Homo sapiens: one gene and its partners. The protein of the gene in region 2 purifies or fractionates together with the protein of the main gene of each other region. This does not show direct contact. Each region holds a gene or a part of one and is shown on either strand. Other genes may lie near its edges.

Evidence for each region.
Region 1: the proteins of NT5DC2 (region 2) and PDS5B fractionate together in Homo sapiens (co-fractionation; one large-scale study listed by BioGRID). This does not show direct contact.
Region 3: the proteins of NT5DC2 (region 2) and HMGCL purify together in Homo sapiens (co-immunoprecipitation; one large-scale study listed by IntAct). This does not show direct contact.
Region 4: the proteins of NT5DC2 (region 2) and GRPEL2 purify together in Homo sapiens (co-immunoprecipitation; one large-scale study listed by IntAct). This does not show direct contact.

What each region holds. Positions count from the first base shown.
Region 1 is NC_000013.11:32,589,031-32,593,178, forward strand, and holds part of PDS5B (sister chromatid cohesion protein PDS5 homolog B), read left to right. Parts: intron 1-4,148. UniProt on the Homo sapiens protein: Regulator of sister chromatid cohesion in mitosis which may stabilize cohesin complex association with chromatin. May couple sister chromatid cohesion during mitosis to DNA replication.
Region 2 is NC_000003.12:52,527,110-52,531,242, reverse strand, and holds part of NT5DC2 (5'-nucleotidase domain-containing protein 2), read left to right. Parts: intron 1-1,908; coding exon 1,909-2,093; intron 2,094-2,307; coding exon 2,308-2,382; intron 2,383-2,550; coding exon 2,551-2,606; intron 2,607-2,703; coding exon 2,704-2,797; intron 2,798-2,931; coding exon 2,932-3,060; intron 3,061-3,169; coding exon 3,170-3,230; intron 3,231-3,311; coding exon 3,312-3,414; intron 3,415-3,524; coding exon 3,525-3,626; intron 3,627-3,867; coding exon 3,868-3,949; intron 3,950-4,133. UniProt on the Homo sapiens protein: Promotes dephosphorylation of tyrosine 3-monooxygenase TH which decreases TH catalytic activity and leads to reduced synthesis of catecholamines including dopamine, noradrenaline and adrenaline.
Region 3 is NC_000001.11:23,815,180-23,819,327, reverse strand, and holds part of HMGCL (hydroxymethylglutaryl-CoA lyase, mitochondrial isoform 1 precursor), read left to right. Parts: intron 1-1,744; coding exon 1,745-1,852; intron 1,853-2,557; coding exon 2,558-2,653; intron 2,654-4,148. UniProt on the Homo sapiens protein: Mitochondrial 3-hydroxy-3-methylglutaryl-CoA lyase that catalyzes a cation-dependent cleavage of (S)-3-hydroxy-3-methylglutaryl-CoA into acetyl-CoA and acetoacetate, a key step in ketogenesis. Terminal step in leucine catabolism.
Region 4 is NC_000005.10:149,351,477-149,355,417, forward strand, and holds the end of GRPEL2 (grpE protein homolog 2, mitochondrial precursor), read left to right. Parts: 3' UTR 1-3,107; downstream 3,108-3,941. UniProt on the Homo sapiens protein: Essential component of the PAM complex, a complex required for the translocation of transit peptide-containing proteins from the inner membrane into the mitochondrial matrix in an ATP-dependent manner.

The DNA of each region.
Region 1 (4,148 bases), on a different chromosome or scaffold from region 2:
TGGCATACGGACTCTTGAATGACATGGACTGTATATAACGTATATTGGAAAAGAATACATTTGTGTTTCCTCTGTTAGTGTTAAAGAGCAACAAGAAAACTTAAGGATGATCTCCAACTCACTTATACATGAGAAATTAGGTTCAGATTTTAATTTCATTGATTTATCTGAGGTCACAGTCATATTCATGTGGTGGAACTGGGGCAGCCCTTAAGATATCCTGGAAGCTTAGAAGTTTCCCCATTGTCTTTTTTTGTTCTATTCAGGATTTAGCAATATTTATTAATAAAAATTCAGGGTAGTACATTACCCTCCATCCCCTTCTCACCTTTTTATTCATTTAACCAAGAATAAAGTTTTGTGGTTAGCCGTCTGTTTCAGCGTCTGGTTTTTAATAATTTCTGTTTAGGATTCAGTCCATTTAGGTTGTCTCAGAAGATAGCCTCTTGTAGGTCTCTGTCTCCGGGAGCCGTCTTTCTTTATGTAACATTACTTGACATGGCATTTATTTATTCTTTGTGAAACTTCTAAGAGTAATTTGGGAAAGTTAGTATTGACCTTTGTTTTGTTACAAGATATAGTGCGTGCATGAGTATGCGTGTATTTTTTCATTTTTAAACTCAGTTTGCTACACAAGTCATCTGTCACTTCTAGTTACAATAGGCGTTTTACTTGGTTTTCGTATTCCTGTTCGGGAATGTTAAAGATTCCAAAAATACTTAGTTTAAAAACAAGCCCAGTAGTTTCTCTGAGAGTGTATTTACTTTTTAAGAAGCTGCCAAATGGTTCGCAATTCTGACTCCTTGGAGAGTAGAGGTAAGAAGCCCTTTCCTCACACTGTTCTGTTACAACCACTTGATTCTAACCATTTCCCCCATTACTTGAAAAAGGTTTTAGAATCCTTTCTCATTAATTAGTTCAGAATTAAGAATAAATTTGCTGTGTTGAGACTGTAATTGTTTTAGCTGGCATGAGTGATCGTGCACAGTGAAAAAATCATGATAATAAAACTTAGATGAATAAAATTTATTTGTTCAAATCTTAAAGCCTTTGAGGTTTAAAAAGTATAATCATTGTGTTCTAATAATTAGACATTAATAATAAGTAGTAATTAAAAATACTTGGTTTAGCTATGTAAAACATAAAAGCTAACAGGCTTGGGGGAAAGACTGATTAAAGTAAGAAACTATTTTGAGGCATCTTTTTAAGGACTAAAAGTATTCCACTAGCCTGCCATTCTCTTTTTTGACGGATAATTACCTGATTCAATTAAAATGAACAGGTACAAAACTTCCATATACATACAGTACCAGGGATGATGCACTAAACAGGACTGAAGACACCCTGTCCTATAGAAGTGCAGAGTAGTGGTTGGCCATCCACAGCAAGGTGATGAGAGCTGAGACAGACCAGAGAGTAGGATCTCTGCTGTTACTTAGTTCCGAAGGAGCAGGCCCTCCTTCCTTTTCAGTGGCAGTTGAGGTTGCTCTTTTTATGTGGGAGAGTGAAATTAGCCAAGATTAGATCCCATAAGGAGAAGGAGGGGCTCTTATAACCAAGACCATTGTCTTTCTCTAGAAGAGGATGGTTAGGGACCTGAAAAGAAATGAGATTTTGTGTTTCCTTAGGTAAGATAGGATTCTTTCTCCTCAGAGGTGATTTTAGGGAAGTAATTGAAGATATTTTAAAGGAAAGCTCCATATCTCCAAAATATTATTTAGTAGCTGAAGTTCTACCAGGTAGTTTCAGTTAGCTTTCAGATATGGGATGCTTTGGGTTGGGTGTGGGGGTGAGAGTTGCAGGGGCAAGTTGCAGGGGCAAGATGCTGGGCAAATTGCAGGGGTGAGAGTTGCAGGCCTTAAGTACTCTATTAGGGGAATAGAGTACCTAAAGAATTGTGTATTTTAAGTTAAAAGTTATACAGGTATATGGTAAAAAAAAAAAAAATTTAATGATAGAGTAAAAAATGTTACTTTTTTCCTCCCCCCACAGGTAATCCACTGTTAACAGTTTCTTAAAAGTTTACTTTAAAAAAAATTGTACAAAGAGTATTGTTATACTGTTGTACTGTAATTTACTATTTTATTTATTTATTTTATTATTATTATTATTTTTTGAGATGGAGTCTCGCTCCGTTGCCCAGACTGGAGTGCAGTGGGGCAATCTTGGCTCACCACAACCTCCACCTCCTGGGTTCAAGTGATTCTCCTTCCTCAGCCTCCTGAGTAACTGGGACTACAGGCGTGTGCCACCATGCCCAGATAATTTTTGTATTTTTAGTAGAGACTGTGTTGGCCAGGCTGGTCTCAAACTCCTGACCTCGTGATCCGCCCGCCTCGGCCTCCCAAAGTGCTGAGATTACAGGCATGAGCCACCACGTCCGGCCTACTGTTTTATTTTTTAACTGTGATTTACTTTTTTCCTTAGTTAAGTCACAAGCTCTTTTCATACTGGCACATACAGATCAACATAATTAAGAAATAATAAGAATATTTTATTATAACATAATTTATTTTTTCTGACTCCTGTTGAGTAGTACTACGTTGTAATAGTTTACATTGACCAGCAGCGTATGAGAATGCCTGTGACATGTATTTACCAACATTGGACTTTAAAAAACTATATTGCCAATTTGATATATGAAATTTGTCTTGTTTTGGGTTTGTATTTCTTTGTGAGTGAAGGTAAACATTTGTTTATATGCTTATTAGGGGGAGGCCATTTGCAACATATTCTTTAATCAAGTGGTTTAATGCTAGTTTAATTTACTTGCTGCCCCCACCACCTACCTTCACCCTTACCTAAGAGCTAAGATGGTCTGAGAGAAGTGGGACTTTAAGAAGAGGAAAAATATTTTGGGGCTCATGGCACCTTGACGGGGAGCAATGCTCTGAATGGAGAGGCTACAGCACCTGGCTTTGAACAACTCTGGGTCAGTATGAGAGTATTGAAAGCCCTTGACTTGGTGTAAACATAAGGTAGAAGAGAAGCTGAAGCGACACACAGGAAGGGAGATTTGAGAGTCAGGGCAAATAAATTTTGTATAGAGTCAACCCCACCTTGTACCATCTGCTTATCCTGTCTCATCACTTCTCCCTCCCACCTTCAACTATCATTTCATTTTTATTCATACTGTCATTTGGTTTTCTCCTCTTTTCCTGTCAGGCATGGCAGCCTGGACCTGGGTATTTCAAATGCCCCAGAGATGAGGTGTGCTTAGTTTTTGGTTTTCTTTTTTTTTGAGACGGAGTTTCGCACTTGTTGCACAGGCTGGAATGCAGTGGTGTGATCTCGGCTCACTGCAGCCTCGGCCTTGGCAGGTTCAGGCGATTCTCCTGCCTCAGCCTTCTGAGTAGCTGGGACTACAGGTGCACGCCACCACGTCTGGCTAATTTTTTGCATTTTTAGTAGAGACAGGGTTTCACCATGCTGGCCAGGCTGGTCTCGAACTCCTGGCCTCAGGTGATCTGCCCGCCTTGGCCTCTCAAAGTGCTGGAATTACAGGCGTGAGCCACTGCGCCCTGGCCTAAGTAGAAGCTCTTGAGCACTTTTTCCCCCTCTGTCTCTTTGGTACTATTCCTTTCAGCTTTCGACTCTCCTAGCCTTCTGGGGTAACATAAATAGGTCAAGTCTTTATAGCTGTAGTTGGAATTCGGAAGGTCACTGGCATTTAAGACTTGAACATAGGAGCATATATCACAATATATGCTCCTATGATATATCAGGATGTGATGCTTGATAAGTGGGGTCCCTTTCTAAGGAATGCAGAAGAGCATGGTGGTTAATTTAAGCATATAGACTTAAGAGTCAAGACAGCTTGGGTTTTTATCTCCTCTAGCTAAACAAGCAATTACCTAATCTTACTAAATCTCAACTTCTTAATCTGAACAGTGGGACTAACAGCAGAAACCTCATTTTTAAAAGCAGCTTTATTGAGATACAACTCACATACCATAATCCATTGAAAATACACAATTCATTATTTTTTAGGATACTCATAGGTTTGTGCAGCCATCATCACAGTCTGATTTTGGAACATTTTTGTCTTCTGTGAAAAACGCCAAACCAAATGTAAATGAGTAGAGCCATTACGGAGAATATTATGGGGGCTCCTCAAGAGGTGAGAAGGGATAGAGAGAGGTTGGCTA
Region 2 (4,133 bases):
TTCGGAGCAGCCGCTCTGTGCTGGCCTGGGGAACCAGCCACACCTGATCCCCCACCCACACCCTGAACTTGGCTCCAAAGGAAAGGGGTGGGAATGGAGCCCTGTGTCCCCAGAGTGCCTCTGAGGCAAGTGCTCTGGGCACGGAGCACATCAGCGAGATGTCTGCCTCTTGAGTGCAGCAGCTGCCAGGCACACTGTGGGGCTTCCCTGGCCCTCTGGCCTGGCAGCTCCTGCTTTGTCATCGGCACTGGGGTTGTGGCTGAGACAGGGATCCCCTGGAGTCTTAGAGCTGGGGCCCCTGCAAGGCAGGGGTACTAGATGTACCCTGTACATCTAGTCCTGCCTGCTCCCTTCTCCCTGCAGCCCCTGCTTCTGGAGGGACACTGGGAAATTGGGGACAGGATGCTCATAGGCTCAGGAAACATATCACCCATTTAATCCTGCATATGTGCAGGTGCAGAGTGAGATTGCTGCACAGAGCAGCACCTTCCATATGACAGTCTTAGTAATTCTGTAGGTTGGTACAATTTTTTTTTTCTTTTTAAAAATGTTTTCACAGAGACAGGGTATCGCTATATGGCTTAGACCAGTCTTGAACTACTGGGTTTCAAGCAATCCTCTCGCCTCAGCCTCCTGAGTAGCAGGGACTGTAGGTGTGTGCCACCATGCCCCACTTGGTACAATTTTTTGTACCCTTTTAGAAACTAGGAAACAGGCCCAAGAGGTGAGGTGACATTCCTGAAGTCATAGCCATGAGAGGGAGGGCCTGGTCTTGTCTGGCTGACCTCATTGCATGTGGCCTTCCTAGCACATCTCCTTCCCTTTCCTTTCCCTTCCACTTTCTCCATTGTACACATAGGGAAACCAGGGCAGGTAACATGGGGCCTCTCAGCCCCATCTGCCTCCTTGGGACCCCAGAGCCCATGCCACACAGTGCTCTGCTCAGCACCCTGCTGTGGGCCTCAAAGCCAACTGCAGCCTCCTGGGAGCAGCCAGGGACTTGGGGTGGCCACGACCACATCCCCAGAAGGAGCAACCTGGATAATGGCCCAGAACCTGACATCACGTCCTGACTGTCGTAATTAGCAATGTTCCCTGGCTAGAGCCAGCAAATGTCATTATATGGGCTTGCGGGCAGCTGAAATCTGATTAGAGGGGCCTCACTCTCCCTGGGCTGTGGGAAGTGCACAGAGCTGGCAGCCCGATCGGCAGAGGGGCTCCCCCTCCCACTAATGTTCCTGAGCCCCAGTCCCAGCTCTGGGCAAGGTAGAAAAGTCAGCATCCATGGCCTCAACCCCCTAGTCTGGCCATACAGAGCCAGCCCCTCTGGGTTGGAGTCCTCAGTGCCCACATGGTATCCTCACACATAATCCCAGGGAGGCTGAGAGATGAGGCCAGGGGGCAGGGCAGGGCAGCTGAGAGGAGCAGAGGAGGCGCTGAATTGTGGGGGGCCAGACAGTGGTGTTCCTGCACGGGTTTTGAGCAAGTGGGAGGCTTTGCTTTGTAGAGCATCCCAAAAGCAGCTGTTCTGGGGCTAGGCGGTGAGGAGTTGAGTGACTGCTGCCAGGGTTCTAGCATGGCCTTGTGTCTGATGGGGCTTAGTGGTGAGGGCCTGGAGTAGTCACGGGCTCAGTATACCTGGTGGGCTATAGGAGATAGTGTAATGTAGGCAGGTGTAACCATGAGGAGGAGCTCCAGCCAGGGGCTCTGCCTTACCCTAACTGCGTGACCCTGGGCAAGTGACTTCTCTCTGGGCCTGTTTGACCATCTCCAGCACTGGAATAAGAGGTGCCATTGTGGGGCGTTTCTGAGGCTCACAGGGCTAGGTCCCCACAGAGTGCTCAGGAGCCATAGCTGCTGCAGGGATCATCATCCCCATCACTGCCTCCCTGCATCTCCTTCCTCTAGACCTCCTGCCCCCCGAGGTCTGCAGTCTCCTGAACCCAGCAGCCATCTACGCCAACAACGAGATCAGCCTGCGTGACGTTGAGGTCTACGGCTTTGACTACGACTACACCCTGGCCCAGTATGCAGACGCACTGCACCCCGAGATCTTCAGTACCGCCCGTGACATCCTGATCGAGCACTACAAGGTGAGACGGGGGTCCTTGCCACCAACAAACCCAGGGCTTGGAGGCTGGCCAGACCCACCTTGGCCTAAGCTCAGGGCTGAGTCGTGGGGCTCCCCTGGCCCTCTTGCCTGGCAGCTGCCCTGGGCAGGTGGCTGGATTGACCCCCTGGGGTGGCCACCCAGCCAGCAGGTCTGGCAGGGCTATTGGCTTAGGCCTGGCCCCTTTCCCCCGGCAGTACCCAGAAGGGATTCGGAAGTATGACTACAACCCCAGCTTTGCCATCCGTGGCCTCCACTATGACATTCAGAAGGTGAGTGGCTGGACCTGTATAGGGGCTCCCTCCTTGGCCTCCTCTTGGTATGGTCATTACCCCTCCGTCCCATCCAGCTGGGGTTCTGGCATGGGCTGAAAGAGGCTGGCTTGGGGCCACGGTGAAACTGCCTCCTCACCATCCGTCCTGCCTCCCTGGCGCCCCCAGAGCCTTCTGATGAAGATTGACGCCTTCCACTACGTGCAGCTGGGGACAGCCTACAGGTCAGTCGGCTCTGCCCCAACCCCACCCCCGCCCCACCCTACACTGCTGTTCTGGCTCAGGACTACCTTGGACTGATGGTATCTTGGGCCTGCTCAGGGGCCTCCAGCCTGTGCCAGACGAGGAGGTGATTGAGCTGTATGGGGGTACCCAGCACATCCCACTATACCAGATGAGTGGCTTCTATGGCAAGGTACTCCATACCCCAGCAGCCAGCCTGCCCCATGGACATGTGCCCATGTCCCAAGGCAGATTTGGGGCCCTCGTCTCCAGCACTGAAGGGGTTGGGGTCCCAAAGGGTGTCTGAGACAATGGCCCCCTCCCCAGGGTCCCTCCATTAAGCAGTTCATGGACATCTTCTCGCTACCGGAGATGGCTCTGCTGTCCTGTGTGGTGGACTACTTTCTGGGCCACAGCCTGGAGTTTGACCAAGCACATCTCTACAAGGACGTGACGGTGAGGATGCTGGGCCTGCCCTCGGATGGCAGGAAAGACTAAGTCCAGCCACAGTGGGACAGCCCCACCTGGGCCCTGCTGTACCCTCATTGTCCTCCACTGCCCCCAGGACGCCATCCGAGACGTGCATGTGAAGGGCCTCATGTACCAGTGGATCGAGCAGGACATGGGTAAGTGTGGACAGAAGCCCTGCCGTGGCCGGCCTGAGCAGGTGGCAGGACTGACCCTCACAGACTCATCTGCCCCATTAGAGAAGTACATCCTGAGAGGGGATGAGACGTTTGCTGTCCTGAGCCGCCTGGTGGCCCATGGGAAACAGCTGTTCCTCATCACCAACAGTCCTTTCAGCTTCGTGTGAGTCCAGCCCCTGTGGATGGAGGGACAGCAGGGCCAGGGCTCTGGGTGGGGAGGGCAGGCACGGAGCCGCCCTCAGACTACTTGCCACCTGAAACTCCTCCACACAGAGACAAGGGGATGCGGCACATGGTGGGTCCCGATTGGCGCCAGCTCTTCGATGTGGTCATTGTCCAGGCAGACAAGCCCAGCTTCTTCACTGACCGGCGCAAGTATGGGCATGGTGGGGGTTGCAGGGCCAGGGAAGGGGAATAGAGGCCCCACCCCAATGAGGGGACTGAAGCAGGAGGCCAACCTGGCCCTTGCCCACTGCCCAATGTGCTTGGGGTGAGAACACCCCCTTGCTGGCATGGGTCCACTTGAGCAGGTGGGCCTTTACGGAGGAGGGATGGGGGTTGCCCGGCCCGTGGCCCAGCCACAGACTGGAAGTCATGCCCTTTACCTGCACCCCAGGCCTTTCAGAAAACTCGATGAGAAGGGCTCACTTCAGTGGGACCGGATCACCCGCTTGGAAAAGGGCAAGATCTATCGGCAGGTAAGGGCCATCTGGGGAGAGCAGCATGTGGTGGGGGCATGGGGCCTAGCTAGGGCCCCAGGCTGTGCAGAGGCAGCCTCTGAAGAAGCAGCACAGCTCCTTGGCCCTGAGCAGCCTCACACAGGCAATGGCTGGCAGGGAGCAGGTCTGGGTGGCCTCGAGAGCTTGACCTCTGGGTCAAGCA
Region 3 (4,148 bases), on a different chromosome or scaffold from region 2:
GAGCTTTTCCATGTGGTGGCCACTATACCCATGTGGCCCTTGAGAACTTGAGATGTGACTAGTGTGGCCAAGGAATTGTATTTTTATTTTTATACAATTTTTATTAAATTTAAATAACCACATGTGACTAGTGACATATTGGGCTGCACAGATCTAGAAAGTTACACACCAGGGTGTTAATAGCGTTATCACTGGGAGATTCTAAGGGTGGTTTTCTTTTGTTTTTGGCATGTTTTTCTGAAAGAATCATATATTGATTATTTTTTCAATAAGAAAAGCTTTTTTCTTTTTCTCTTTTTTTTTTTTTTTTTTTTTTTTTTTAGCACGTCCATCCTAGCTTTAATAGTGAGTGCTTGTTGGAAACAATAGTGTGTAAGTTCCCGAAGGGCAGAATCCTGTCTGTTCTGCTTCTGCTTACTGCTATATCCCCGGCACCTAGCACAATGCCTGCAACATGGAGGGCTTTCAAAAATTATTTGACAGGCTGGGCATGATGGCTCATGCCTGTAATACTGGCACTTTGGGAGGCTGAGGCAGGCAGATCACCTGAGGTCAGGAGTTTGAGACCAGCCTGGCCAACATGGTGAAACCCCATCTCTACTAAAATAAATGAGCTGGGGTGGTGGCATGCTTGTGTAATCCCATCTACTCTGGAGGCTGAGGCAGGAGAATCGCTTGAACCCGGAAGGCGGAGGTCGCAGTGAGCTGAGATTGTGCCACTGCACTCCACTCTGGGCAATACAGTGAGACTCCATCTCAAAAAAAAAAAAATTTTGTGGAAAGATTAAGTTAGAGCAGTGGGAGAGAAACTGGAGAAGGCAGGCAAGGGGAGGACCTAGCGAGAAGGACCTGGAGTATTTTTGTGTGTTCTTTTTGTTTGAGACAGGGTCTTGCTCTGTGTCACTCAGTGCAGTGGCACAATCATTGCTCACTGCAGCCTCGACTTCCCAGGCTCCAGTGATCCACCTCAGCCTCCTGAGTAGCTGGATCACAGACACGTGCCACCACGCCTGGCTAATTTTTGTATTTTTTGTAGAGAGGGGGTTTCGCCATGTTGCCCAGGCTGGTCTCAAACTCCTAAGCTTAAATGATCTGCCTGTCTCAGCCTCCCAAAGTGCTGGGATTACAGGCGTGAGCCAATGTGTCCGCCTGGACCTGGAGTTCTTAGAATTTTTTGCGTAATCCTGTAAATATTAGGGAGCCATAGAAAGCTTTTGATGCAAGAGAATGGAAGGTTGGAAGCTGCATTTTAGGAGGATTCCTGTGTAAGATGAATTAGTGGCTTGAGACTATGCCATGTTATATACAGGATAATGATGGTAGATTTGGAAAGAGGAATCCATGGAATCTGTTGAGCTACTGGACATGGTGGGGAGGAAGATAAAGAAGCTATACGCTGAACACATGAGGCTGAAGTCCTATGCCAATTGGGAGACAGAAGCGAGGAGGGTGTGATACTTTGGGGGCCCCATCCCATACTCCCCAGAGGGTTAGTCATCTCTGCCCTTTCAGGCCATCACACATTGCTCTCAGTTTGTTTATGATGGGATTATAAATTAACACACATTTACTTACGGGAAAGCCTGCATGGCAGAATAATGTTTCTATGTAAATAACTCCTTTTCAGGTGAGAAGCTGCATCCACTGCAAAAAATTATCTATAGTACTTGAACTAACAGGTACTGCATTTTGAGGCTGTTTTGTTACTAACTTTGCTGCCTTGGTGTTTCTCTCTCCACTATAGAATATCGTATCTACTCCAGTGAAAATCAAGCTGATAGACATGCTTTCTGAAGCAGGACTCTCTGTTATAGAAACCACCAGCTTTGTGTCTCCTAAGTGGGTTCCCCAGGTGAGCCCTAGCCCTCAATGAAAGGCCTTTCTCTAGGGATGAAAAGTTTTGCATTTGCCTTTGAAGCAAGTAGAAGTTGAGAACATAGGTTTCCAAGCCCCTGGCTTTGAGAGGTCTCAGGTGATTCATAGCACTGTGTTGCAGCAAAAGAACATGACCCAGGATTCAGGGCCTTGGGTTCAGTCTTGGCTCTGCTCTGACTTGCTCAGTGACATTGCTAAGGCCTTCCCCTCCTCAGTGTTAGAGATGACCTCTTCTAGCCCTAAAGTCTAAAACCCTCTATGCCTGTCTGTGGTTTCTTTGTTTGTAAAAGAGGAAGACTGACAACTCCTGCTTCACAAAGATAGTTAAGTGAAGAAGAAACATCCTGTTACAAAGGAGTGCTTAACACAGAGCTGAGCTCAGTGCCTGGCCCAGAGTACATTCTCAATAAATGGCTGGTAGTAGTATTCCTGCTGTTTCTGCATATGTAAAGCTGGCAGTATGGGCCATATGGAGAAATTGGGATCTCAGCCAAACCAAGGGCCCTTCTGAGCCATCAGCAGTCAAACAAACAGTAAAAGTATTGGAGAGACTCAGCTCTGCAGAAGGAATTACTCGCTAAGAGTTCTGGAGAACAGAGGTTTTGTGATGAAAAGGTTTTCTCTAACTGAACTCTCTGTCTGCTCTTGGTGATGACTTGGCAATGTCTCCCTTGGTTCCTAGATGGGTGACCACACTGAAGTCTTGAAGGGCATTCAGAAGTTTCCTGGCATCAACTACCCAGTCCTGACCCCAAATTTGAAAGGCTTCGAGGCAGCGGTAAGAGGATAGCTTGTTGGTGGGGGCTCCTGAAATGAGATTGATGGCATTGGTCCCTGCCTTGTCTTGGCGCCTCAGTCCCCTGTCCTGGGATGTCCATCTGAATAGCTTGTCTGTCAGCCAGACCCTGGGGCAAACCTGGCCCTGCCACTCACTGCTCTGTGATCTTGACAAGTTGACAAGCCTATAAAATAGGGCTAAATGATAGTACCTGAAGTTGTGAGCATTTCAGAAGATAGGATGCATGTACATTGCTTAGCAAGAGCCAGATAAAAGGTAACTGCTTAATAAATGTTAGCTCTTTTGATTATCCACTTCTTTAGAGAAATGTAACCAAACTCTCCACAAGAGTTTCAACAGTAGTTGCTGGCATCTGCCAACTTTCTTACAATTTTAGACAAGAACATCTTTGGAGGCGTTGGTTCTGTATTTAGGCAAAAACCTTTTTTTGGCTGGGCACAGTGGCTCACACCTATAATCCCAGCACTTTGGGAGGCTGAGGCCGGAGAACAGCTTGAGGCCAGAAGCTTGAGACCAGCCTGAGCAACATAAGGAGACCTTGTCTCTACAAAAAAAAAAAAAAAAATCAATTAGCTGGCTGTGATGGCATGCACCTGTAGTCCTAGCTACTCGGGAGACTGAGGCACAGGATGGCTTGAGACTAGGAGTTCGAGGCTGCAGTGAGCCATGATAATACCGCTGCACTCTTCCAGCCTGGGTGACACAGCAAGAAAAAAAAAAAAGCTTTTTCTCAAGAGTGACTTCCAGGGTGGTGATGGCAGTGGTGGTGGTTTCCTTGGGGAAAATCAAAGTTTTTTTTTTTTTAATTAAGAGAAATTACTGTGTTTGTTTCCTAGTGCTACTGTAAGAAAGCACTACAGGCCGGGCGCGGTGGCTCACGCCTGTAATCCTAGCACTTTGGGAGACCAGGGCGGGCGGATCATGAGGTCAGGAGATCGAGACCATCCTGGCTAACACGATGAAACCCCGTCTCTACTAAAAATACAAAAAATTAGCCAGGCTTGGTGGCAGGTACCTGTAATCCTAGCTACTCAGGAGGCTGAGGCAGGAGAATCACTTGAACCCGGAAGGCGGAGGTTGCAGTGAGCCAAGATCATGCCACTGCATTCCAGCCTGGGTGACAGAGCAAGACTTTGTCTCAAAAAAAGAAAAAAGAAAAAAAAAAAGAAAGCACTACAAATTGGGTGGCTTAAAAACAACAGAAATTTATTCTCTCACAGTCTGGAGGCCAGAAGTCCCAAATCAAGGTGTCAGCAGGATTGGTTCCTTCTGAGGCCTCTGGGAGAATCTGTCCTATGCCTCTCTGCTGGGGTCTGGTGGTGGCCAGCAGTCCTTGGCATTGCCTGGCTTGTAGATGCATCTCTCCAGTCTTTGCCTCCGTTTTCCCAGGGCCACCTTTTCTGTGTCTCTGTGTCTTCACTTGGCCATCTTTTGTTTTTGTTTTTTTTAGACAGAGTCTTGCTCTGTCGCCCAG
Region 4 (3,941 bases), on a different chromosome or scaffold from region 2:
CATTTGAACAGTGTGACAGGTGTTCCAATGGCCTTTATCAAAACATGTTTAGGAAAATTGGTACTGTGATAAATTTGAATCCAAAATCCTTTTAACTATGGGTTTTCAACTACATGTTTCTTCCTAGCGGTCTCTATAACAGGAATTGTGTAGTATCTTGTATTTTGTGGAAAAAGGAGATGGTAGGGATTGGTTCAACATTTGGGTACTTAGAGGATAAAGCTTCGTGGTCGTATAAATTTAGATCATTTGGATTGATTTTTATACACATAGATTTTCAGGACTTTACCTTTTGTTTTGTTTTTTTCCTTTTAGCCATCTTTTGTTCTTGTAATCCCAACTAGATAGGCTTTATGCTCACATCATTGTCCCATACCCACCCCTTTCTCATCCCCATTTGCAGGGGCTAAAGGTCTAGATGAGACTTGGAAGGCAAGGAGCATCGAAATTTGAGATACCCAGGACCCTTTCAAGCAAGAATGGCCAAAAAGCCTTGTGCTGTCTTTGCTCTTCAAATTATTTTCAGCCTCCTTGTCATATAATCATTTCAGGCAAACTGAGGCAACACTAACAGCTAATGACCCAGATGGCTCTATTTGGGTAATTTACCTACAACTTATTCCACCAGCCTTTACTCCTCTGCCCTTTTGTCAATTTTACCTTATAATCCTTTATTAAATGATGGGAGGTGGTGATCAGGACAAAAGTGTTAGGTTCCCATGATTTCTCATTTCATTTATTAATAGTTAATGCTGAATTTTTTTTTAAGTTTCCTCTGGCTCTATTTATGTTACTTTTTGCGATAAGAACACTTAACATAAGTATTCTCTCCTCTTGGCAATTTTTTTTTTTTTTCCTGTGTTGCCCAGGCTGACCTCCAACTCCTGGGCCCAAGCAATCCTGCCTCAGCCTGCCAAGTAGCTAGGACTACAGGCGTTCACCACTGCGCCCGCAAAGTTTTTTTGTTGTTTTTTTTTTTAAGTTGGTACTCACAAATCACTACCTCTGTTATATTGACAAGCTCTATTTCCTATTCTTTGTATCTGTTAAGTCACATCTGTGTAAACATTGAGCTCACCTTTTATATATTAACCTCTAGAATTAATGGGCCTATGTGGTTTTTTTTCAGTCTTATAGCTGGTGTTCTGTAAAAGATTTGTCCAATAAACGACTTAATGAATGATACATCAGTCAGATTTTAGGAAGGCAGTCAATTATGGATATTTTAATGTTGGAAGAGGCCTTAATGATCAAATCTCACCCTTTCTGCTTCTGAAGTATGAAAATCTAGTCTTTTTAGGACTGGACACAAGGAAAATAATCTCTAAACTATTGACTAAATTCCAGTGAGAGTATGAATGAAGAACAACTAGATATTAATGTCAATCATTTAAGATTAATGGGCATGCAATTAAGTCTCCATTTAAGATTAATGGGCATGCAATGAAGTCTCCAGCAGACAATCAGATGTTGTTGGATGTCTAGATTATATAGGTTTAGGTTGAAGTTATAAAATAAAATAAAATTCATTTTCCACTGGAACTCTATGACATTCAGTGGAGTGGTGGAAAGTTAACCTCTTATACATTATAGATAATTCTAAGACAGCACACAAACTTATCAATAAAGCCATCTCCTTGTGGGCCTTACCATCTTCATCAGATTTAGACCCTTAAAAAACAAGTAAATATGCACTTTTAAAATGCAATCAAAAGACTGGTGGTTAAGCTTGTAAAACCAGAACATCTTTTGGCATTCCACTAAGTATATATTGTAAATTTAATGAACAATCAAGGTTCACAATAGGAAGTTGTCTTTTTTTGCCTTCCATTCTGTGAGATTTGACAGATGGTGACAATAAGAAAATGAGCTGATTGTAATTACTCTCTGTGTGTTTTTTTATTGCTAGCTATCATTACCAGTTAGAATTAACATTAATTACAATTAACAATAATTTTAGGTATGGAATGTTATGATTACCTAAAGAGATGTCTCTACCTAATGAGCTCAAGTGATCCTCCCACCTCAGCCTACCAAGTAGCCAGGACCACAGGCAAGTGCACCACCATGACTGGCTAGTTTTGTTTTTTGGTTTTTGGTTTTTGGTTTTTGGTTTTTTTTTTTTGGTTGGTTGGTTGTTTTTTACAGGCGGGGTCTCACTATATTGTCCAGGCTAGAAGAATTTTCTAATGGTCTATTACACCTCCCGTTTTGGCAAGTAAATTCAGAATAATTTTAGGTTCTTTTGTTATTCAGTAGTTTTGCAGACTTAAAAGTGTAAATTTAGAATTAGAAGATGAAGCTATAGTAGTAAGAATCTCAAGCTGAAGGGCTTTGGGGAGCCAAAGCAGCATATTAGAGCATAGGCTTGAACTTAAATCTCAGCTCAGTCACCTGCAGGACTTTAGGCACCAGTGATTTCACCCTTCTGAGCCTGTTTCTTTATTCGTAAAATGATTATAATAATTCTTTCACAGCGTTGTGAGGATTAAGTGAAATGTGTTAAATGCCTACTACAGTAGGTGCTCAGATATTTATTTTTATTTTTTTATTATGCACATTGTTTTTCCTGCCTTTTTATGGCTGTCTAAAGTCTAGGGAAAAGGGAAGACTGGTTAATGATGAGTAGAAAAAACTTGTAAGCTAATCATTCACTGACTTATTTTCCTTCCATTTTCTGGTTTTTAAAATTAGCCACACCACAGGAAACCCACATTTTTAGATGGAAAGAGCAAGAAAATTGTGTCAGTGCTCTTAGTTATTTTCATCTTAATGGTATAGTGAAAAGACATTGACTTGAGATGATACTAAGGAAGCTTTGGCTCACTCTCACTTGAAGAGGGGATCTTGGTGTTGTAGTACTTGGACTGTACAAATGTTTTACTGACTTTTCTTACTGCTGTAAAGGAATCAGGCAGTTGGGTATTGATATGTTATTTGGTGCTCTCATTCATGGCAAAGGATTTGATAAATAAAAGTTCTTTAAACACTAAAGCAAAATCAAATGAGCAAAACTAAGGATGAAATGTAATATTCATCAGAACAAGGATCACTGAGAAAAAATATTCAGAAACAACTTTAATAAAACCTGAATTGAAATAACTGCAGCTCTGGTGTTTAGAGTCTTTGTCTGCCTATTCGTATTGTATATGGAACATTATGGTCACTTCATGACTGCTGACCTGCCTTGTTGATGCTCTGGAGAGGTACCTTGAGATCTCATAGCAGCATAGCCAAGTGGATGCACTGTGGGCTTTCCCCACCCTGCCTCCGTGTTGAAGTCTTGTCTGTTTTATTCCTCCTTGACTTGCCTCTTTCTGATTGCTACATATTTCTTAGATCTGGATTCCTATTTCTGCCTTTTTTTTTTTTTTTTTTTTTTGAGATGGAGTTTTGCTCTTGTTGCCCAGGCTAGAGTGCAATGGCGCGATCTCAGCTCAGCGCAACCTCCGCCTCCCAGGTTCAAGCAATTCTCCTGCCTCAGCCTCCCGAGTAGCTGGGATTACAGGCACCTGCCACCACGCCTAATTTTTTGTATTTTGAGTAGAGACAGTTTCACCACGTTGGCCAGGCTGGTCTTGAACTCCTGACTTCAGGCGATCCACCTGCCTCGGCTTCCCAAAGTGCTGGGCTCACAGGCCTGAGCCACTGTTCCCAGCCCTATTTCTGCCTTCTTTTCTGGCATTGACTTGTTTTCTTGGGTTCGCCTTTTGGTTCTAGGTGTCTTATTTCCTTTGACTACTGCTGACTATTCTCCTAACCAGATTACAGACACTTGGCCTTGTTCTGACCTTCAGCTTCCCCATGTCCTTCCCACCTTGTGACTGCCTGGCCTTGTCTTTACCTCTGCTTCTCAGCTAGCTTCCATATACCTAGACTCCTGGCTGAATGGCCCTCTGTTGGGCCAGCCTTCCCTGGGATTTGGTCTTGCGTTTTCATTA